Linked DNA regions of Homo sapiens: all the other regions are linked to region 1. Evidence: fine-mapped expression QTL. A gene starts in region 1. Each other region holds a variant in brackets. All regions are shown on one strand. Distances are from middle to middle.

Region 1 (5,899 bases):
AGGGGCAGCTCAGTCAGACAGTTCCCACAGGACAGAGCATTTCTGGCCAGGTTGGTACAAGATTAAAACAATGATTATGATGATGTAAGAGTTTATCTTACACATCCATGAGCTACAACTGTTAACCAATGCACACGGGGGGAGGAGGTTACATGCACATTGACTATTTAAAACTGTCCAATTTCATACATTTCGACAAAGCATTTAAAACTCTGCCAGAACAGCCCAGAATGGGTAGCGGGTGGGGTGGAGGAGAGTCTGTATTTACTTTAAAATGTGAATTAATTAGTTTAGACACAAGGAGCAAAACTACAAATGTCTTGATATCTCTTATATGTTAAGAATAAAATTACAGCTGTCTAGGGGCATTGAGTGTCCACCATTGCCCACTCTGTGTTTAGGCCTTCACACTTGTCTCACAACTCCCTTCTGCTACATTTCACACCACGCAATACCTCTGCAAGGGAGCTTTAGCTACAGGACTCAGAGGACAAGGTGCATGTTTCAGCTAAAGCACACCCCCGTTCTCAGTGCCTCAGCCCAAAGCAGCTGCTGTGTAAGAGCGGTGACGGCCGGGGAACACCCAAATGACATATTCTCCGCGTCCTTCCTATACTGTAGTGATGTTTACTGAAGTGCTGAGAAAACATGGGAGGAGACACTGGGGTAGCAAAGCCTAAAGTCAGATATCTTTGGGGAGGACTAAGCATCGGCTGCGGGTTGGGGATTTGCAGGAGTCTTTGCTTCTCTGGCTCTCCAGTTCTTTAGTAGGCTTTACCTGTGTCAAAATCAAGTGCGAGATGGAAGACTATTGCTTTGTGGGAGACCCAGGGACAACTAGCCGGGCAGAACAGGGCTGTGGTCCCGACTCCCCCAGCAGACCTTGAACGACGCCAGTCCGACTCCTCCAGAGGGGGCTGGTGACAGGTCAGCTGCCTCGCCCCGAGGGTGGGGGAAGGGCGCGCTTTCCATCCGCGTACTGGGACAGGAGTTTGGGTGCAAACTAGTAAAGGCTATGGTGCTCCCTTTACACCCAAGTAAAGGCATGTGGTTTGGGGGACGGAAGGAGATTAAGCCAATGCGGAATGCCCTACACACACTCTAGCACCACCACTTTGGGGACTTCGGTTCTCCCGCTGGCTCGGGCTTGGACCTCGGTCTGCAGGGAGAGGGTTGGAGGGACTGGGCGGCTGCGGCCCTTACCTTGCTGACCACGTTCTGGACGAGGCCGGCGCGGATGCCGTAGTCCCATGCGCGGCAGTCACAGTTGGAGGCGTTGTCCCCCTTGTCCGGAGGGGATGGCAGGGGTGGTGTGTCGCCTCCGTCCGCGCCGCTGCTGTTGCTCCGGTTGCCCGCAGCCTCCCAGGGGGCAGTGGCGAAGGGGGTGGTGGGGAGGCTGGTCCAGTTGCCCATGTCCCCGCCCCGGCCTGTGGTGGTGACCCCTGCCAGCTCGGTGCCTTTGCCGGCCCCGCGGCACCAGAAGTTGGGCTGGTCCAGGAGGAACGAGTCCGAGAACTGGCTGAAGCCGATGAACAGCGCCGGGATCCAGGTGAGCAGCACGAGGGTCTTCTGATAGCCCCCGCCCAGGCCCCCGAGGAAGGGCAGCACCGACCCGTCATAGTCCAGCAACAAGAGGCTCGGGGCCGCAGCCGCGGAGCAGCAGCTCGGGTGCGGGCCGCCTCCAGGATGCAGTGGGGGCAGCGGCTGGATCTCCGCGCCGCCGCCGGGGCCCGCGCGTCCCCCGAGGGGCGCCGAGGCCGCCGCGTCCCCGGGCGGCAGGGAGCCGTTCTCCTCGGCCGGGGCCGGCTGCCGCCCAGGCCCGCCGCCCGCCGCCTCGCGCCGCCGGTCTATGGCCATGGCCCGGGCCCGCGGCTCCCGCAGAGGCGCATAGAGCGCGGCGGAGGCTCCGCGGGCGCCCCGGGCACAGCGCGCCGGGCCAGGCGCCTGCAGCCGCTGCCGCCGAGGAGGGCCCGCGGCTCGAGAGAGAGCGCTCGGCGGCTCCGGGTGCGTCAGGCCGCCCCCATGTCACCCGCCGGACCCCGCGCCCCGGGCGCTGCGGCCCCGCTCGGGCGCCGGGCAGAGGCGGGCAGAGGCCGGCCGGGCCCTCAGCCGCCGCGGCTCATCAGTTCCGCGGCCCGGGCGCCGGCTGCCGAGCCCGCCGCTCTCCGCTGCTCCGCGCCGGACGCGGCAGGAGGAGGAGCCGGCGCCGCGCCCGGCCCGCGCCCTTGCCGGCGGTTCAGGGCCCTGCGGGCGGCGGTGCGGGCAAAGGCTGCTGCTCCCGGGGTGGCCGCGCTGTATTTCTCCGACTTCGGGCGCCTCCCGGAAGCCGCGAGCTCTGGACCCAGCCTGCCGAGCCGGCCGCGCTCTCCAGCTCCTGGAGCCGGCCCCACTCCTCCTCCTCCTCCTCCTCCTCCCCCTCCTCCCTGCCCCCCGGCCCGCCCCCTCTCCCCCCGCCGAGGTGGAGGTAACCGCGGCACCTGCTGCGCTCGGCTCCTGCTCGCGAGCGCCCCCTCCAGCCCGGACGCGCGGCCGCCGCCGCCCGGGATCCACGGGAGGGGGGCGGGGGAAACGGGACACCCCGGGCCCGCCTGGCTGGAGGATCCCCTGCCCGTTGCCCGTTTCGCGCCGGGCGGGGCGGGGGAGGAGGAGACGCGCGTAGCAGGGGTCGCCGGCCGGCGACGGGTCCCGGCAAAGTCGGCGTGCGCTGAGAACGTGTGGGCCGGGTCTTCTCTGAGGCTGGGCTCCCGCAGCCGCGCGGGCCCCCCACCCACTCCGCGCGCGCCAGGTCTCCGTGACCTCTGTCTCTTCAGAGGTGCCCGGCGGTCCCGCTGCCCGCGCCCCGCTCCCAGTCCCAAGCCCGAGGGTCTTCAGCCTTCGGGAACAACCCTCTGCGCTTTTTCCAGGAGCGAATAAGGTTGATTTTTGTGTCCGTGGAGCAGGGTCAAGGAGGCGCCTTTGCCAATTTCAGGTCGCCAGTCCCCCGCAGTGTCTGGCCACCTGCGACCCGCCGCACCCACTCCCAAATCGCCATTTCTTCCCCCACTCCTAAGTGCATGCGATGTAAGCACGATGCTGGGATATATCTCCAACACAAGTTATAATACACACAGTATAAACGTGATGGCATTCCCCACCCCCTCCCTAAGATCTTGTATTCACGTTTGGAACGCCGTGTGCACAGGCGCACACATCTATACTCTCACACAAGAAGACAAACCTCTCCCTCCTCTCCTGCTCCAGCGCCAACCTTGCCCAGCCAGCGCTGTATAAATAACACCAGCCCTGCGGCAAACGGCTACATTAGCATATTTCCTCCTGCACCCAGCGCACGCACCAAAGAGAATTATCCGGCACCTTTCAACCCAGCGTCCCCACATTTTGGAGGCATTTCATATTCTGAGAAGTTTATTAATGGAAGTCTTAAATGGAGCAATCCATTTCTAGTCTTATTTGGGGCAAAAAAAAAAAAAATGTTTAGCTTTCCAAAAGGATATATTCTAAGCTCCATATACTGAATGTATTCTTTTGCATTTTCATTATTTGCTCAGCTAACCGCTGCACAATTTAGTGGAATACATTTTTAACCTGCAGTTCAGTGTTAAGGGCAACATGTGTTTACTGCATAAAATGCTGGCACATACGTACCAGAGAACTATTTCTGAAGGCTGCCGGGGGGCGGGTCTTGGGGGACAGGGGAGGTTGTGGACCTTCCTGCGTGGCCGAGAAGGGGTGATTAGATAACAATGGGCGGAAGGGGCCCTAAGGGCTGCAAAAGACACCAGACCGCTGAGAAATGGGTCTGGAAACCACATATATAAAGAGCTGGGGGCTTGGGGCGGGGGGGGACACGATAGTGCACGTTGTGTACGTGGTAATTTTTCAACTTCACATTATTTATTAGCTTAACTTTTCTTTTCCTTCCCTCTCCTCCCCTCATTTGAAGAGCTAATACATGCAAAGTTCTGACCTCCATGCCTGGAACAGAGTAAGTGCGCAATGAATGTTAGACATGTATTATTACCAGTGCTCCTCTTGCCATTACATACAATCCACATTTCTTTTTGAATTGAAATATAACTTTACGGATTTTATTTATTTTCCTTTCAGTGGCTGATTTTCCAGAAGAGGTCCACTTTGTGTCTGGCTCTGCCTCCCTTCCCCCACAGTCACAAGGACCCATTTGTTTTCTTGTAACTGATCACAAAAGGAGCATTGCCATTGACCTTAATGGCCCTTCCAATCAGAATAACTATCATAGCCAGCGTTTCAGAGTTGGCTTTCAAATTCACACTCTCACTCAGTCCTCACATTCAGCGCCCCAAGAAGTGGGCTTTCAAAGAGAAACAGCAAGGATCAGGTGACTGACTACCAGATCAAAGAGTTGGTCCCCAGCTGAGCCAAATATCTGGTTTTGAACCCAGATTTTCTGACTGGACATTACCGGATTTCTCCATTTCATCATACAGGGGCAACTATAGGGAAGAGTTTACAAAGATGTTTGTTAATGTGCATTTTTACGTGGGAGAAGCCCTGGCCCTAGGAAAAGAGTTTCATTGTGAAGATGTTATTAGTCTTTGTTCGCAAAAGGTGGTAAAAATCCTCAAATGGTACATTCTTAGAATTTAGGGACACACTGGAAAATGGTATCCTCTAAAACTGAAGCTAAAAGGAGGCAACATAAAATGTTTGAAATTAACTAGCTGCAGCACTGACCCAGGCATTGTAATTAAGCTGTTGATTAGATTAGAGGTTTCCCTAAATTCCTCCTGGATTGATATTTCCACCAAATCTAGTCAAGAAGATTAAAGTGTAACTACTTTAAAATAAAGTGGCCTTCAATTTATTAAAACATACCACAAGTGATCTCATAACGTGAGCAAAAGGAGTAAAGAGGAAGAATTTGACACTCTGACAGCCTCAGTGGGTGAGGTTTGAGATCCATGGACCAGGATAGGAAAGCCAGACACCTGTTAAAAAATTACTGTTTTTAATTTTCTGAATGAGCATTATCATCAGCTGCTATTTTTCTTGTTTGCTTAGTTAGATTTACGTTCTGCCTCTAGAATGTAAGCACCTTCGGGGATAGGTGCCTTGTGCTCAGCTGTATGCTTGGTGGTTAAAACAGTGCCTGGTACATGCAAGGCACTCAATACATCTTTGTCAAATAAATGAGTGTATCAAGTTATTAATCACTTGATGATACTGTCTATTCAAATCATCAAACTGTTTACTTTGTTTCTTAAATCATCAAGCAACCTTTTTGTGTTTGTTCATCTCTCAAAGATGGTGCTCAGATCAGCCAACATGAGACTTGAAATGAATTTGACAATTATATGTCTTGTTGTAAGGCATTGTGGTTACTGGATTAGCTCCCAATATTATCTTCTCTTGGGCAGTATTGGCTTGCAGATGGTGGCTTATAGGCCAAATGCAGCTCACAGACCATAGGCAATGTTTTCAGGAAAATAATTGCTAACATTTCAAAATTGGGAGATTGAATACTTAGAAAAAAATGTGTTTTGGGCTTCTCTGAACATCATAGCAGAAGCCATTGTCCTTTTGATGCCCCATGTTTGCAGGACCGTGCTTTCTTGGACTGCAGTAAATGAGCAGGCACTCTCCAGCTTGCCCTCATCCCTGCCTGACACATGCCCCTCATGCATGACATTTGGCCCCCAAAAGTAGCTGTGTTTGTGACCCTAAATTTATGTGAGTATCCTGAACCCAGTGATCTTAATAAAGAAGCTGAGTCATTCCCTTTTCCTTTGAAAGTATGTTAAAGAATCTACCAGTTTATAGTTTTCTAAAAATTGAGAAAATAAGGAAAGGAAATGAAAGTCATAACCTAATCACCAATACATTTGAACAGTTTTATTTCCTTGGAGATAACAGGAGAAAA
Region 2 (4,949 bases), 120 kb before region 1:
TTCTTAATAAATTTGCTTTTACTTTGCACTGCGGACTGGCCCCGAACTCTTTCTTGGGTGAGATCCAGGAATCCTCTCTTGGGGTCTGGATCAGGGCCCCTTTCCTGTAACAATAATGGCTGAGGAACATCTGAGCCTCCTTATGTAAACATATGAAATTAAAAATGTGTCCATGAGAATACAGCTTCCCTCCTCTCCTCTCCCCACAGGGGAGGTGCTTCCTAGCCCAGAGAGCGCTCCCACAAAAGCGGTATTATCCAGGAGGGATGGCCTGGAGAAGGGAATGGTAAGGGCAGGGGCTTTGAAATTGGTTGGCATTTCCATTTTCCAAGTACCAGCTATACGAATGACATTGAGCAAGAGGCTTAACATGCTTATGACTCTCTTATGAATGGCAAGAGGTACTATCTGGAAGAAATGTTTGTCAGAGTCAAAGAAAGTGATGATATAAGGTAAAACGCCCGCCGGTCACATTCTCTCTAGGGCCTTCAAACAGCACGTTAGTATAATAATTCAGGGACACATTTAAACAGCCCTGTGGGCTGGCCTGGGGACCCATACGTAACCGCAGCAGAGTCTATGACAAATTGCCCCTTTAGTTCCAGGTAACCATGAGATAAATGAACTTTTGTAAAAGTTGATAATTCTTGCAAAAGTTGGGAACATCTTGCATAAGAACGGCAACTTGGAAAGTGACTCGATTTCTAACCACAGTATGAGGAGCTTTGTAACCGATCCTTTGTGTAAAGGCCAAAAACGATTTTCAAGGTCCCATGTGAAAAAGCAGGAGACAATTGCCGTAGCAAATTTATAAAGTGACAGAGTGCGGCCCTTATGGAAAACAGATGGGGCTACTGGGAAAAGGGCAGCCGCATGACGTGCTAGAGACATGAGAACCGAGAGACTGTCCTTAGGTACTTGTGGGTTTTGATGGGATCTGTCTGGAAAGGATACATTTACCATTTGGGAAAACAGAAACCAGGGCAATATGAGTTTACAGGAATGATATTTAAAGGACTCATGTCTTCAAGCTTATGCTCCTTCTTTCAGGATCAGGTTGAATGAGGAGGGGCCGGTCTCTCATGTTACACATAACCTTTGGCATTCCCATCACCAATGCCTGCTATGGCACCTTCCCCTCCCTTCACAGGGTTGAAGGTGGCCTGCTGTGAAGTCAGGGGTCACATGGCTCCTGTGAGCTCCTGGCTCTGAAGGACACACATTCGGAACATACAGCATTTAATATAGAGAAACAATCCTCACACAGAGGTTGCTGAGAGGCTGGCCCGAGTCACAGATGACCTCAGAAGCTGTTTTGAGATTCATTGGAAAGAGGGTTTCTCAGAAAGCCCTCCCTCCGATCAAGCTGAGAGGAAAAATGTTAAATATGAAGGATTGAAATGCTAAAAAAAAGTTATGCCATTGAAGCATACTTTTTGTTGTAGTTGTTTCAAAAGATTTTGTTCCAAAAGCCTAACTTTTATACAGTGCAAGAGGCTGTTTCAAGGTGAGGTTTAGAGGACACACCTGAAACTTTTTAGAATGGCAGATGTCAGACCTCACTAGAAAACTCTGAGGTGGATGGGTTTTGTTCTCTCTCTCTCTCTTCTTCCAACTCCTTGGGTCCAGAACATGAAAACCCAGAAAAAAATCACAGTATTACTCTACTTAGGATGTGACTCTGTAGTCACTGGTTAATCACTGCTCTGGTGTTAGATGACATTCAAATGTAAATGCTGTGATTACCAAACCATCTCAGACTTCTGGGGTAAGTGTTCAGCCAGCACTTCTGATTCACGCTGGGCTGCCTTTGACAGAGTTGGCAGAAAAGAAAAGAAGCAAAAGAGAAGAAACCACACGCACAATTCATTGGTCATCTGTTGTGACCGAAGCTTCCCTGTCAAGCGAGGGGGGTGGGGGCGGGGGAGCGCAGGAAACTGAACACAAGCTGGGAATAAAATTTCAGACTGGGGCCATCCTTTCCACACCTGTAAATCCTTTAAAAGAAAAGTTAATGGATTTTAAAAAAAATCATACAACTTAAGTCTTCTTGTACTTCTTTCATTTCCTAAACAAATCCTAGGGCCCAAGTGATTATCTATATTTCGATTCATGGATAGAGGAAGACATCTGTTCAGTAGCATTAAGAAGAAAATCTTTCTTCTTAATGAAAGATTAATGAAGCTTTAATTAAGATTTCTTCTTAATGAAAGCTGCTAGTTTAGGTTCAGCAGCTCCTAAACTAGCATTTTGTTCCTCTAGGTACATACTATGGGTTTAAATTTTAGGTGTGTCTGCGTGAAAATGAAAACTTATTCTCAGTTACCGTTTTGTTTCAAGATGGAAGCCTCAATTTGAAATCCAGCCCAATGTGGTTTGCTGTTTTAAGGCCATGTGTCTCCTTAACATAACTCTTTTTCAAAAAGTCATTGGGTGGCCAACAAATTGAGATAAAACAAAATTTAAAGGAATACCTTACTTCATTTAGGCAACCGAATACTAAAATTTGAAATTCAGAATGAAGTACAGCCCCAGAAACTATGGAAGTGAGGCCACTAGGGTTCACGGCTCACCTCCTTTGAAACACACACACCTCTTTCTCTCTCCCAGTCTGCAGAGGTCCCTGAAAACAGTGCTTCTCAAAGGTGGGGCCTCCTTGACCCACAGCATCAGAGTCCCCCGGGGCCCTGAGCCCAGATTCCCAGAAACAGATGCTTTCCAGATGGAGCCCAGGAAGCCAGTAGATGGGGGGTCCAGGAGATTCAAACCTTGAGGAGCTTTTGCCGTCAAATGTCAGCAAAATTGCTGGGATTTCTCATCTGCCTGAAACTGCCATCGTACAAATAACACCTTCAC[A/G]TTAGTGCTGGGGATGAAAACCTTTTCCTCCACCCTCCTAGGGTCAGTGCTTGGGGCCTGTGAATTAAACTGACAAAAGACAGGCTGGCAAGAGGAAAGACAAAGTTTAATCACATATGTATACCGGCAGGAGAGTGCAAAAAATGGCTCAGAGAAGAGGTTGGAATTTGGGGCTTTATATACCATCCTAATGCAGGGAAGGGGTTAGGATTTCAAGAGACAAGAAATAGTGGGAAATGACAGAGAAATACACGGGGGAAATAATATAAGAGAAGGTTTGTTTTAGTAAGGTGTGTTTATGCAATTTCTCATCCTGCATCAACTTCTCATCTTCACCTCTGCTGGGAGAAATCTCCCTTAAAGGGGGATTTATGACAGTTGAATTCTTCGGGAAAGCTCTGTTTCTAGGTAGATGGGGGAGTTCCGACAAAGCTGCGTCCTGCATCTGCTGGTTCTCAAATGCTGTCAGCTCACAACAGTCCTTATGGCCAGTGGCATATTCTGGACCACTTCAGCAGCAAACAGAGACACTGCATTTCCACATCTATTCCCAACCACACTCTTGCCTCGTAAACAAGTGCTAATCCCATTTAACAGGGAGGCCCCAAGAGGTTAGTTACCAAATAGGCCTTAGGTCATATGGTTTATAGTATCTAGGACTTGAATTCAGATCTTTGGATTTTAAACACCAGATTTATCCTTTAAGAACGAAGGAAACATCTCCAGCCCCTGCAAATACACACACACACGCACACACACACACACATCCTCATCATTTAGACATAATGTCCTCGTTTTAGACATCTTTTTTTCAATAAGACTAGCACAATTTATCACCATGACCATTAATGAGACCAGCTCTTAACAAGCTAAGCTTATCAATGAGGGCTCTCTCCCATGTTTGTCGAGACGTAATTAAATACTCAGCAGCCGGCCAAATGTCGAAAGACCCTAGGTCGCTCTTGAATTGCCCATCTATCTGCTTCTGAACATAATGACGTTGACTGATGACCTTGGGGAGCTGGCTGTATTTAAGAGAAGAGCCAATCACTGTCAAACATTGGTGCCGAACAGAGAGCAGCCCTTAAATACATACACACAAGAAGCAATGAAAAAATGTTTCATTTGGGAAAGAAGACAGAAGGCACAGGATGGCAGAAGAAGGAACTTACATTCTATAAATATTGAGAATATTTTCTCAAGTAAATTTTAGATTCGATTCGCTTATTCCTAAGTTAGAAAATATTTTAAGAGGATTTTTGCTAAGGGGAATGGTACACGAATTAGAATCTACTGTCCAGTCTCTGACAGCACTGGGGAATGCCTTGGTTTCTGTGGCTTTTTCTTCCAGAACTGCATTGTCCAATACAGTGGTCACATATGGCTATTTAAACTTAAATTAATTAAAATTAGGTACAAGTAAACCTTCAGTTCTTCAGTTGCACTGGCCACACTTCAAGTGTTCTATTGGACAGCACTGATCTAGAATCTGATGTTAACATGTCAAAATGAAAACACCTTCCTAGCATTCTCAATGACATGTAAGTAAGAAGGAGGGGAAAACCAAACAAATTTTTTAAAAAAGTAGTATTTCACATATATGGAAAAAGCATAAGAAATAATAGAGAATACCCAAAACAGCTTGGCCAAATCTCTACATGTGCCATATTCTCCTCCCCTCTTTCCTTCCCCTTTTCTAGCAGAAGCTCTACTGGATCCCTTTGATGAGTCTAAAGGGCTGTATTGAAAAGTTCAAAGGACACAAGCGGTAGTGTCTGACACGACCATGTGGTTAAGAACCTGGGCTCTGGGGCCAAACAGCCTGGGTTCTAAATTTTCTGGGAAACTAAAAGCCATTCTATAATGTTTGGGATTTCATTGAAGGTTAAAATGAAACTAATTTGTACACATAGAGTGATGTATAAAGATCCTTTTTCTGGAGGTAGAAGTGAACAGCGTGTCTTGAAAGAACCAATTCCAAACTTTAAGCATATTGAAATAAGTAAGCGTTAGGCAATCACGAACTCCTTCAGTATCACATTTTGGTCCTTATAATTTCAGAAGCAAGCTTCTTGCAAACTATCCACCTGCTG
Region 3 (5,899 bases), 96 kb before region 1:
CATGCCAGCTGAGACTCATTTCATTCTAGGACAGTACTAGAATGAGCATCTCACTGGGAATTCACCGCCCTCAGGCAGATAACAGATGCTGCTAAGCTATGCTAGCTGGTGTTGCCACGTTTATTCTTCATCACTGAGTGGTTCTCCTTAGGTCACACATATAACTATCCATCTGAGTGCAAGTTTAAAACAAAACAAAAACTGAAGAGGACATACAGATGGCCAAGAAGCACATGGAAAGATGCTCAACGTCACTGTCATCGGGGAAATGTACATCACAGCGACAATGTGGTAGCCCTTCACATCCATCAGGATGGTAGCTGCTGTCAAACAAACAGGAAATAACAAGTGCTGACAAGAATGTGGGGAAACTGGAACCCTGGTGCACCAGTACATTCCTGGTGGGAATGTACAACGGTGCAGCCAACTGGAGAAAACAATATCCCTGTTCTTCATAGAATTAAACAGAGGATTACCATCTGACTCAGCAATGCCACTTTTGGGTATAACCCCCCAAAAGTGAAAGCAAGGACCTGAAATGATATTTGCACACCTATGTTCACGGCAGCATATTCACAACAGCCAAAAGGTGGGAGCAACGCAGGTGTCCATCAACAGATGAATGGATAAGAAAATGTGATCCATCCAGAGGATGAAATATAACTCAGCCTTAAAAAGGGAGGCCATATCCAACATATGCTATAGTATAAAGGAAGCATTTTTTCTTTTTTTCTTATTTTCACTTATTTTTGTCCTTAGAGGTCCTTGTTCTGAGGGAATCCTGAAGACATTATGCTAAGTGAAGTAAGCCAGTCACAAAAGGACAAATATTGCATGATCCACTTAAATAGGTTCTTAGGTAGGCAAATTCATAGAAACAGAAAGTAGAAGGGTGGCTGCTCGGGACTAAGGGATGGGAATGGGGAGTGTTTATTGGGGACAGAGTTTGTTTGGGAAGATGAAAAGACCTCTAGAGATGAAGGGTGGTGATGGCTGTGTAAAAATGTGAATTACTTAATGCCACTGAATGGTACAATTAAAAGTAGTTAAAATGGTAATTTTTATGCTATGTTTATTTTACCATGATAAAACAAACACCCCCCTCCAAATAAAACAACAACAAAAAAGGCAAGTCCGTAGTATTGGCCTTTGAGAGCTCTGACCTCAGCTGTGCCCCGCCCACCCATCCACCCAAGGATCCTTAAACTCAGGAGGATCAGAAAGGCTCAATCACCAGGAGGTGAGGTGAGTCACAGAGCTCACTGCATTGCCATTCTTGGGGGCATTTGTCTCATCTGCCTTAAAATACAGAACTGCATTCTCATAGTCGGGTTTCAGGCAACGGCTCAACCGTGGAGGGAGGTCACTTTGGGGCCTTTGCACACATCCGAGTCAACCTCAACAGTCTTAGTCCACACATCTCTGTATTTCCGGTCACTTATTGCTATGCTGACTGCTCATCTAAGCCCCAGATACTGTCCCAGTTATTTAGGAGACAAAGAGGCCCTCAAGCTGGCCTGAGCCCCCAAGGGGTCCTCAGTGATGTCGACACGACAGGTGTGCAGGCACCCCCATGCAGACGGGCCCCTCTGATGGAGACCTGCGTTCGGCCAGGCAGGCCCACAGCTGGCGTGGTCATCCAGGGCGGGAACGGGATTGGACGAAGCCTTCCCTCGGGCAAAGATGCTGGGGTGGGGAACAGGTGCAGCAGGAACAGAAGGTCAGAGCGTGGTACTGGGGTGACGAGAGGCGCTAGCGAACATCAGCAGCTGCGGGGAGCTCGAGGCAGCAGGGATGTCCAGGCCACAGAAGGTGTCCCACATTTTATATTCCTGTTGTTTGTATATTTTCTATTTCTACCCACCCCCCCCATTTTATGCCTGACCCCAAGTTAAACTGCTTAAGGACTTAAGACCCCAACCAGCTGTGACTTAGATCAGGGTTTCTCCCCCAAAGGAGCCTGCAGCAGTGTCACACAGAACACACCCCCTCAACTGTCTTTCTACTGAAAAAAAAGAGAGGGAAACGTGCTTCAATAAGAGGGACACAGGGACCCCCAAGCCCTGCCCTTTAGAGAAGCTTAAAGACTCCTACATCATTCTTTTTTTTTTTTTTTTTAAGGAATTGGGTCCCTTCCATCTGTGGCCATGACCGTTCATCCCACAGCCTGTCCTCCTCTCTTGAGAGCTGTCCTGGCTCAGGCTGTGGCTGGATTCTCAAGCAGCATCATGTGGCCAGGTTAGGAGCAGGATGTCACAGAGAGAGGGGTCCAAAGTTCAGCTGCTGGGAAAGGCCACAAAGACTGGGGTCCCAGGAGAACGGCGACCTGCCTATCAGTTCTATCTCTAAAACTCTGGGGTTCGACTCTCCAGACTTAGCTTCTGTTCCCAGCTTTACAGAGGACAAGGGGCTGGGCCCATGAGTCTCTCTGCATCAGCAACACCTCACTCTCAGTTGAATTCAGACTCGAAAGCCCAGTCTCAACACAGCAAGCCCCATGGGATCCAAGAAATACTGCTCCATGCGTCTGTTACCCAGTTGTCTTTTTGCTGAATCACATTGTGGGGGCAAGAAGAAACATGAGGCCATCTCAACAGATCGCAAAGGCCTCCACGGCTGGGACACCTGTCAAG[C/T]GGGAAACACGTGCCGGTTCTCACGCTACGACCTAGGGAGATGAAGACATGGTCCCTACCCCGAGGGATTTACAATCAGGCATGGAAAATACTCCAAATCCAACACCACACTGCCACATGCTGATGGTCATGCCAGAGTGCACACAAGGACTGTAGAAACATGGAGGAAACCTATCAGATCATTCTATACACCTTCCCTTCAGATTCATGTGCTTGTCAGCAAATTAAAGGCTCTGTGAGGTCCTCTAGGGAAAAATAAATTTTTTTTTTAAGCAAACTTTAAAAAAATTAGCGGCCAGGTGTGGTGGCTCACGCCTGTAATCCTAGGACTTTGAGAGGCCGAGGTGGGTGGATTGCCTGAGCTCAGGAGTTCGAGACCAGCCTGGGCAACATGGTGAAACCCCGTCTCTACTAAAATACAAAAAATTAGCTGGGCGTGGTAGCATGCGCCTGTAGTCCCAGCTACTCGGGAGCTGAGGCTGGAGAATCGCTTGAATCCGGGAGGCAGAAGTTGCAGTGAGCCGAGATCACACCACTGCACTCCAGGCTGGGCGACAGAGCGAGATTCCGTCTCACAAAAAAAAAAAATAAAATAAAAAATAAAAAATAAAAATTAGCATGCATTTTCATCAGGGATTGAAACACCCACCAAGGATACTGTTTCCTGAACCAAACAGTTGTTAACCAGGCAAAGGCCATGACCTTTCTGAGATCTCTTCATGGCCCTGGGCTCCATGGGATTGAGATTAATGAGCACAGCAAAGCCCCCCATCCCATCTCCTTAGCAAGGTAACAAAGGAATGGAACTCTGGGGCCAGGCAGAACCCCCAAGATGCCATCTACAAATCTGGCCTCTCCGTCTCTCCACTACACAGAGTGAGGATGGGAGAACCAGAGCCCAGCTCTCTCCATGGAGAAAGGCTGCAGGTCCCAGAAGCAGGTAGACCTCCAGGACCCAGGAGAGGAAGCATGAATGAAATGCAGACATTAAGGACCATCGAATAAAGATTTTGAGGGCAAGGGGAATGGGGTGGTGGGACAGGGGAATGTCCTGTGCCAGCTTTTGCCATGACCACCTCTTTGTTTCCATGTGCGCGTGAATGAAATATTAAATAGGCTTGGCCAATTAACAACCTTTAAACTCTGGACTGCTCAGAGCCCAAGGAAGAGAGTTTTGATCTGCATTCCCACTTGACCTGCTCAGCACTCGGTGGGACATCCCGCAGCCCACTGCCTGCAACTTCTGATGAGCATCAGAAATGGGCTCTCCGCTCAGCTGGGACATGAGGCATAGCACACTCAGGCAGGGGCATGTTTTTTGTGACTTATATCTTTGCCATTTTAAATTAACACAAAATACAAAAGCAGTTGGGTCTCCCCTCTACCAAAGTCAGTTTTCTTTTCCTGCAGCCCTGGCTGGCCCATCCTCACCAGGCGCAGCAGCAATGGGTGAGCTCCGGCAGCACAGCACATGTGTCACAGCAGGATTGAATGGTCAGCAATTGTCTGTAGGGCTCTGTCCCAGGGGCCAGGCCACCGCCAGAACAGGACCTAAGACAGGGCCCAGGCTTCCTCCTCGGGGGACTGTGACACCCCAGGACACAGGCTGAGGAGAGGCTGTGAGGGAGAAGGGGAGGGGATGGAAAAGAATGAGCAGGAATATGAGTCATGGTTTTGTCCCCGCCCATGGCCTGCTGCTCACCTTGATGTGACAGGCTGCTGCCTGCGGCTGGCCCTGGGCCCAGTGTGGGCACCTGGCAGTCACGCCCAAACTAGGATGTGGCACCTTCAGCACTAAGGTGCCTGCTTGCAATTCTCCAGAGGACAATGCCACCCCAAAAAGGGAAAAGCACAGCGTTCCAGCCTGGTCCTTCCTGGCTTCAACCGCTGCCACGTTCTGGAGAGAAAAAGGGGTATTTTTCTGGGGTGGTGGTGGGAGCTGCCTCCTTGGCCTCTGCTCAGCCATCTACTACATGGTTACTCCAGTGCCCCTGCCCCCATCCTGGTCCTCTCTTGGGCACTAGCTCTACATTCCAAAAGGAGACAGGACATGGGGCAGAGCCAGGGACTGGCTGACCCTCACAGGCATGAGTTTCCTCTGGGCATGGCAAAGGCATGAAGGACATTCGGGTGTAGTTGGGTGGGCCCCAAACGGTACTGACTTTATCTGACCTGGCCCATGGGCCCACACAACAGAAGGCTCTGGCATGGTCTGACATTTGTGCATCTCACCCAATAGAGCTTTTGCCTTCCCTCTCTCCTGGGGCACTTTCACGAACCTCTTTGGGATGAGTCAAAGGTAATAGAAAGCTCATTATCTGCACACAAATATGCAATATTGTATTGCTTGGAAATGAACACTAACTGTCCTTATGGTGCCACCAAACACTTGTACGGGGTTTCATGGCTTCTAAAACCTCTCCATGCAGGTGAGTGCATTCGATTTTCACGGCAACTAGGTAAGATGTAATAGGCACAATTCCCATGTTACACTTCAAGGAACCAACATCAGCTCTCTACAGTAAATTACTCAAAGTTACAGAGCTAAGAAGGTCTCAACTGTAGGACCTGAACCTTGGTTTTCTGACTCTAGGACAAAGATTTTTTATATTTGTTCCCTCCTTAAAAAAAAATTCATTCCCTTCTTTAAAAAAAAGTGAGGTCACACCATGTGATGAGGTCACACCTGGCCCAGATGCCCTGCTCACACCATGTGATGAGGTCACACAGGAGGCATCTAAATTCAACACAGAGGTGAGGGAGGGCATTGGGAAGTGATCCTATTGCTGTGTTTCCAGGGTCAGCGAGAGGTCTCACGCGTGCAGGGCACAGCTGGAGGGAGCAGTTCGCTCCCAGCTGAGGCAGCCACACAGGAGCAGGAGGCACCTGACAGGAGAAGCGCAGCATGGAGAGTGGCAGGAGATGAGCTACTGTTGTCCACCATCCGGGACGTGCAGGTTAAGACTTGGAATCTGGCCTGGGGACAGTCAGAGCAGCTGAGTGGACATGAAGCTGAAGAGTGAGGCATAGGTTTGGGTTTGGAAAGCTCACTCTGGCGGTGTGGTGGAGAGGGGGTAGGGGGACGGCAAAAAAGTGCAGAGGTCCCTGGAATGATCTGAGCCCCAGGGAGCCAAGGGGACATTAAAGGGCCGAGGGAATGAGGCACAGGTGTCTGCTGTATAGTTTATTAACCAATAAACTGCCCTATGGCTGGGCGCAGTGGCTCACGCCTGTAATCCCAACACTTTGGGAGGCCAAGGCAGGCA
Region 4 (5,899 bases), 110 kb before region 1:
TGTCTGTTAATGACCCATGCATTCCCTCAGTCACCCCAGGATGAGAACTGGGGGCAGCAACCCCTTCCTCCCCTGCATGGATGAAGTCCCAGTCCAGCCAGCTTCCTCCCTGCAAATCCTCTTAGTGACTGTGCACCCCATTGCCGCTACTCTGTTCCAGCTTGGGTAGGGTCCCCTCCGTATCTGCTGCCACACAGCTTACAAGGGCATTCCCAAGCAGGCAAGTGGCTCTTTAAACCCTTGTGTTGGCATTGCATTCCTGTGTCATCACATCCAGATCCTGGGCAGGCATGAAACACCTCCAGCTACTCCCAGCTGCACCATCCCACAGCCTCTTGGGAGTCCATGGGAGCTGTGCCCATTCCCTGGCCATCCCTCAGACCCACCTTCCACTTGGTTCCCTGTCATGCCTTTGCTCAGCTCAGTCCTACTAGAAATAGTCTGCCCTTGCTGACACCCAGGATGAATTCTAACCTAGGACCTGGCAAAGCTGTCTTGGGTCAGGGCACACATATAACACAGAGCATATACCCCCTAGTAGCATCTAAAGGACAACATACATACATTTTAACTTTTCACATTAAACAAAGATACTATGGGAATTCCCTGAAAATACAGACATATGTATTAAGGGAATCACCAATAACCCAAACACCCAGTGTTCATATTTTAGTATATTTCCTCCCAATCTTTCACAACGTTTTTTTTTAAATGGTTATCAGTTTGCTTTTGTTATTTTACATTATGTTGCACACATTTCCCCAAGTCATTAACTACCCCCACGCTGTGATGTCCTGTGAGTGCCCGAAGTTTGACCGTGCAGCCACGCCACTCATGGACTTAACCCCTCGCATCACTGCGGGACATTCAGCAGCTTCCTATTTTGTACGGTTGCGTTGTCTTACACGCACATGCATCTGTCCCCCCAACTGGACCCTAGCGTTCTTGTGGGCCATGTCCTTCTCTCACACTTCCTCGCACCCCTCAGGATGGTGAAGAGCTGACACAGAGAAGACTCTGGTGAGTGTTGGCGGCTGACCTGAGCAACCAACCCCCAACATTGGAGCATCATCACGGCTGACCTCTGAGAGCTGAACTGCACAGGAGAATTTAACTACACCAGGAGCACTTAGTCATTCCTTCCCCTGGGTAACAGGAGGCAGGGCCCAGCCATGCAATGAACTGCCAAATGCCTCAGGTATCTGCTTGATCTCTTGGGTCTCCTAAGCTGCTTCTCTCCCAGCCTCCCTCTCTCATTCATCGCTCGTGTTGGCTACCTCCTGGTTCTTCTCAATGGTCTTCTCTTTCTCCTCCTACTTTACATTTTCTGATCTATACTTTTTAGCATAAAAATCTGATTTTTTTATGACTTCATATTGAATTTTTTAAAAGTCTGATATTTTCTCATTATTCCTCTAATCTCCACTGGAGACTCACTTTATGCACAAGATTCCTGAGTCTTTGGCTTGGCATAGGAGGTCCTACACAGTCTGCCCTGCCCTCAGGCTGTGGCCAAGAGCCCTTCCTTCTACTGCTAAAGATGAAGCTCTGCCCAGCATCGGGAGGTGTGCGGCTGTTGCCCCAGCCTGGACGCCCTCCTGTCTCTGCGTGGTGATGTGTCATCATGGAGGCTTTTGCTCTCCACTCCTTCATCTAACTCAGGCCTCACTGGCTCTCTTATCTCACTGCAGGCTTCTCCTTCATGGCACCTGTCCCAGCTGTGGGGGACACACTTATCTAGTTACCTGCATGCTGTGTGTCTCCTGCTCTGGAAGGCTCCAGGAGGAAAGAGACATTCTTTTTGTTTTCTTCAGTCCCAACCCTCTAATCCTTGGTGCCTGCACGTTCCACGATTCCATGCTTGGGGACGGAAGGATGTGGGGATGTGGGGAAGTGAGGAAGGGAATTGGTTTCTGACCATGGCCTGGAACAGCTACTACAACGGAGGGGTCTGGCCTCTGAACCAAAGCCTAGGCGCCATCTTTCCTGGAGCAGGAGCTGTATTTTTCTACAAGCTTCTGTTTTCTCTTCTTACCTGAGCTTTGGGTGACTTGTGGCCATCTGCTCAGAGTGACAATAGCAGTCTGCATTGTGTTTATCTTGCTCTCAGTTTCTTTATTTAGCAAGGCCACTGTCTTCTTACTGAGTCCCATCTGCACCTAAGTGAGTGCACACTATAGAATCCGGCCCTGTTGATGGAAAAATGCAGCCCACCATTCGGCACTTACTAGCCTGGCAATCACACGAGCATCCACCACATTCCCGGCACGGAGCTGGGTGTGGTGCCCTTCCCAACTCCTAGGACCTGACCCACCCAACACCTGAGGCCAGATACTTCACCCCTAGCGGCTGCTCATTCAACCCAAGATCCAACTAGCAAACTGTCCAAGGAAAACAGAGCTTCAAACCTTCCAGCTGCAGAAAGTCACCAAATCTTACAGCAAGCATCCTGGGTCACAAGGAGACAAACCCTTCCCAGCCAACGGACCGGGTCCCCATGACCCAGAGCCAGGGCAGGGAGGGCTTAGGAATTTAGAGGCTTTGCCTCAGAGGAGAGTCAACTGGTACTGTCTTCCCTTCCAACTGTCTCTCCAGCGTTCATCACCACTCTGGAAATAGTCATCTTTCATAACCCCTTCAGAAGAGTAAACAGTGTCTCCCTCTGGGTAAACCAGAAAGCCACAAAGCCTCCCCTGAGCAGGATGACAAGGAAGGGGGATGCTCCTCTGCTTCTGCCCTCAAGGACAGCTGCCTTTTCTGCAAACAGCTGGGTGATGGGGTGCTTCCCACTGGGGCCAACTGGCCGCGGGGCACTTCTCCCTGCTCTTCGTTCCTCCCTGCCAAAGCCTGCAGAACCCTCGAGGAAGCCTGCCCTAGCCACCAAGCAGCTCAGCACTGAGCTGGGGCTTCGGACTGGGCAGTCAGAGCCCCAAACACCTTTCTGTCTCCTACCTGTCTTTCTTCCTCCCCACTTCCTGGGGACCTAAGAGGCAGCCTCTCTCTCCCTATCCCACCTACCCGAGGACTCTTCGGCCAAATTGACTCCTACCACCAAATCCCAATGCCAACCCCGAGGCAAGCCCTGTGGCCCCTGGAGTTTCTGGAACCCTCTCTAGAATGTGGTTCAACCATAGGGCATCCCCTGCAGGC[C/T]CTGAATTATTATAGTACCAAAATATACCTTCCTTCCTCCTCCACCTCCTCACAGCCTAGTTTGCAGTTAGGCTAACCGTCACAGCTGGCATGAGCTGTTTTCATCAGATTAAAATGCATGGCCCTTCTTCCCACACACTATTGTATTTCTGTTTGGTGAAGAATATTGAATACTCAACCACCCAAGTGCTTTAAATATCACTGAATCTCAGGAGGTGGAAGAGCAGAGTGGAGAAGATGAATTATTTGAACTACTCAGAAATAAGCCTAACATGAAAGCAGGAAATTCATATGAAGTGGGCAGTGCCTCAAGCAACCTGATATCTTCAGGAAAGATAAGGTGGTGGCTTATTGCTCCCATCGCTCTCTGATCACAGACCTGGGACAGAGCACCTCTTCCAGGGCTCTTGATTCCTGTGATACACGAAGGCAGATGATCACGGTCGCCTTCATCCCCTCTTGGGGGCTAAGTACATTCACAGTCCCTTGGTTCTTGGTCTTTGTGTCCTTTGAAGCACATAAAAGTCTGGTGGATGAGTAGGACCATGGTTGATAGAAAATTATTTCCCAGTACTGCACAGCATAGTGACTCAGCATGCATGCACACACACACCCCAAATTTTCATGAAACGATACTTAACCCTTATTGTGTGTGATGCACTTAATTCTATTTTTTTCTTTAAAAATGCTGGGCAGGACCCACCCGATGGATTCTATAACCCTTAACCCAAGCCCTAATGTGTCATAAACTACAGTTTTAAAAGCTGCTCTAAAGTAGGGTTGGAAAACTATGACCCTCGGGCCAAATCCTGCTGAAGGCTGCTGTTTTTGTACAATGCACTGCCTGATTTTATTCAGCTCGTCCCTAAGAATGGACATTTTTAAATGGTTCAAGACAACCAAAAGATGAATAATATCTCTTGTGTGAAGTTTATGTGAAATTGAAATTTTAGTGTCGACAAATGCGGCTTTTGTGGAATGCGGTCACACTCATTCACCTCCAGATTGTCCATGGCTGCTGTTGCAGTAGCAGGGAGTAGTAGGTGGGGCAGAGACCGTATGGCCTGCACAGCCCAGAATATTCATGTTCTGGCCCTTTGCAGAAAACTTGGCCCATGCCTGCTCTGAAGCTTTGACAGCTGCAGGCTGGATTAACTGATCCATTCGTCAAACTGGTTGTCAGAGCCAGCATGTTTTAGTTATCCTTCAGTTTCTAACAGAAAAATCAGCATTATTACTTAAAAAATGCAAATGGTGATTTTTATTATGAGAGCAGATTCCTCAAGGGAGACGGAGTTATTTTCACATCAGAGAGAGAAAACAAATGGAATTTCTTGGTGGTAATGGGGAGCTGGTCTCACTGCCCTTCTCACTCCCATTCTGAGGTCAATCATCTTGTATCTTCAAAGGGCACTTGAATTTTTAATCATCTTCTCTTATTGACGCATTTAATTTGTGGTGAAAGAGAAAGATTTTTTTCTTAAAAAAAAAAATCCCTTTTGAATTTACTAACTTATAATGGTGAGCCTGCATTTCCTCCAGGAGAAGCAAGGCCAGGCCGATTTGAACAAATTCCACTTAAAATTCAAGAAACCCATGTGAGATGAAAAGTACCCTCAGAATGGCCACAAACAAAGACCTCATAAAAGGCTAATGCCGTTTGTATAGAATTACAGGAAAGAAAGTGAGAGCTAGAGAGGCCCTCGCAGTTAAAGCCCCCAGCTTTTGTGAGGCTCAGGCAGGATGGAAAAAAAATCTCCCTATTAGCATTCTAGCCGGATGGCCCTTTGTCCAGTGTAATCGGAGTGCGGTGGAAAATGCCAGGCAATTTAGCCTCTTAGGGTGGAAAACGAAGGGGCGAAGGAAAAGGGTTGGGGAAAAATAATCTGATGTTATCAGCTAGTGCTGGCAGAAAGACAAGTCTTGAGATTTTATGGGGTGGGGGTGGCTGAGCTGGGCAATGAACACAAATCCTGGGGGTTGCCCTGAGCGTGCCAGGCAGCGGGGAACGTTCAGCCCACAAGTACTGGACGGTCAGGACTAATGAGCAGTCATCCAGGCTCAGTCAACAGCCCTCTCTGTGGCTTCCCGCCCACCCCTCCCACTGCTCTGGAAACCTCTCTCCCCTCGACCTTTCCTGGCTTTCGCCTAAGAACACGTCACTGGCCACTTCAAAGATTCTGTAACCCATCTCCTCCCCCAGCCACACTGTACCACAGGGTGGGCCCTATGGAGCCATATTTCTGCTATTTGGTATCAAAACTGTCCCCGAGGAGACTTGCTACTTCATTCAGGACTGAGCCAGGAAACCCAGGTTTCTAATGCATTCTCATCAAATGTACATGACCCCCAGGTGAGCAGGAGGATGGGCAGCAGGGCCAAGGCCTGAGCTGCTGCAGTCATGGGGACCACCTCGAGGCAGATGGAGTTCCCATCTAGGCCACACCAAACAGGAGAGCAGGGAGGGATGCTCTGGGTGGATGACTGTCCACCACCCGACTGGTAAGGCTGCTCCGTTTCTGAAATGGGCGTCAAGGCGAAAGCACTCCATGGCCTCCCCTCCCCAGGCAGGGCTGCTGGAGTGCTGAGAGGTGGCAGAGGCCATGGCAAAACCAGGCCCACCAGGACCACAGATAAGGAAGGGAGGAACAGGGCAGGTTGTGGAAGGAGATGTGAGAGTGCCTCTTGTCCTGCTGCTCTGACAGTGAAAACCACGTACACGGACATGTACAGACACACAGACACTCAC

Which allele goes with the higher level. Positions count from the first base shown, and alleles are read on the strand shown. Sizes are in standard deviations (SD) of each study's normalised expression. Not every link is listed here.
In carriers of allele A in region 2, the expression in monocytes after LPS of the gene that starts at base 2,348 in region 1 tends to be higher than with G alone (moderate effect, 0.66 SD a copy in Fairfax 2014).

The links. PIP is the estimated chance that this variant, and not a neighbour inherited with it, causes the effect.
Region 2: its variant is the best candidate, but not a certain one, in a credible set for the expression of SLC22A23 in monocytes after LPS (Fairfax 2014, PIP 0.85).
Region 3: its variant is the best candidate, but not a certain one, in a credible set for the expression of SLC22A23 in lung (TOPMed, PIP 0.54).
Region 4: its variant is the best candidate, but not a certain one, in a credible set for the expression of SLC22A23 in blood mononuclear cells (TOPMed, PIP 0.66).

The regions. Positions count from the first base shown.
Region 1 is chr6:3,454,703-3,460,601 of GRCh38, forward strand. SLC22A23 (solute carrier family 22 member 23) reads right to left here and starts at 2,348. Exons shown (of 10, transcript NM_015482.2): 1 at 1,204-2,348. The coding sequence starts at 1,857. It overlaps LOC643327 (a long non-coding RNA gene), which reads left to right and starts at 1,001. Exons shown (of 2, transcript NR_147844.1): 1 at 1,001-1,549. RefSeq lists silencers at 2,116-2,345, 2,406-2,625.
Region 2 is chr6:3,339,868-3,344,816 of GRCh38, forward strand. The region is part of intron 3 of SLC22A23 (solute carrier family 22 member 23); the gene reads right to left. Among named protein-coding and RNA genes, the nearest start is that of PSMG4, 83 kb to the left of the region's middle. RefSeq lists an enhancer at 1,321-2,044. The variant A/G (reference allele first, on the strand shown) is at 2,857.
Region 3 is chr6:3,359,196-3,365,094 of GRCh38, forward strand. The region is part of intron 3 of SLC22A23 (solute carrier family 22 member 23); the gene reads right to left. Among named protein-coding and RNA genes, the nearest start is that of SLC22A23, 95 kb to the right of the region's middle. RefSeq lists enhancers at 5,069-5,569, 5,570-5,899. The variant C/T (reference allele first, on the strand shown) is at 2,634.
Region 4 is chr6:3,346,352-3,352,250 of GRCh38, forward strand. All of the region lies in intron 3 of SLC22A23 (solute carrier family 22 member 23), which reads right to left. Among named protein-coding and RNA genes, the nearest start is that of PSMG4, 90 kb to the left of the region's middle. RefSeq lists an enhancer at 2,812-5,672. The variant C/T (reference allele first, on the strand shown) is at 3,151.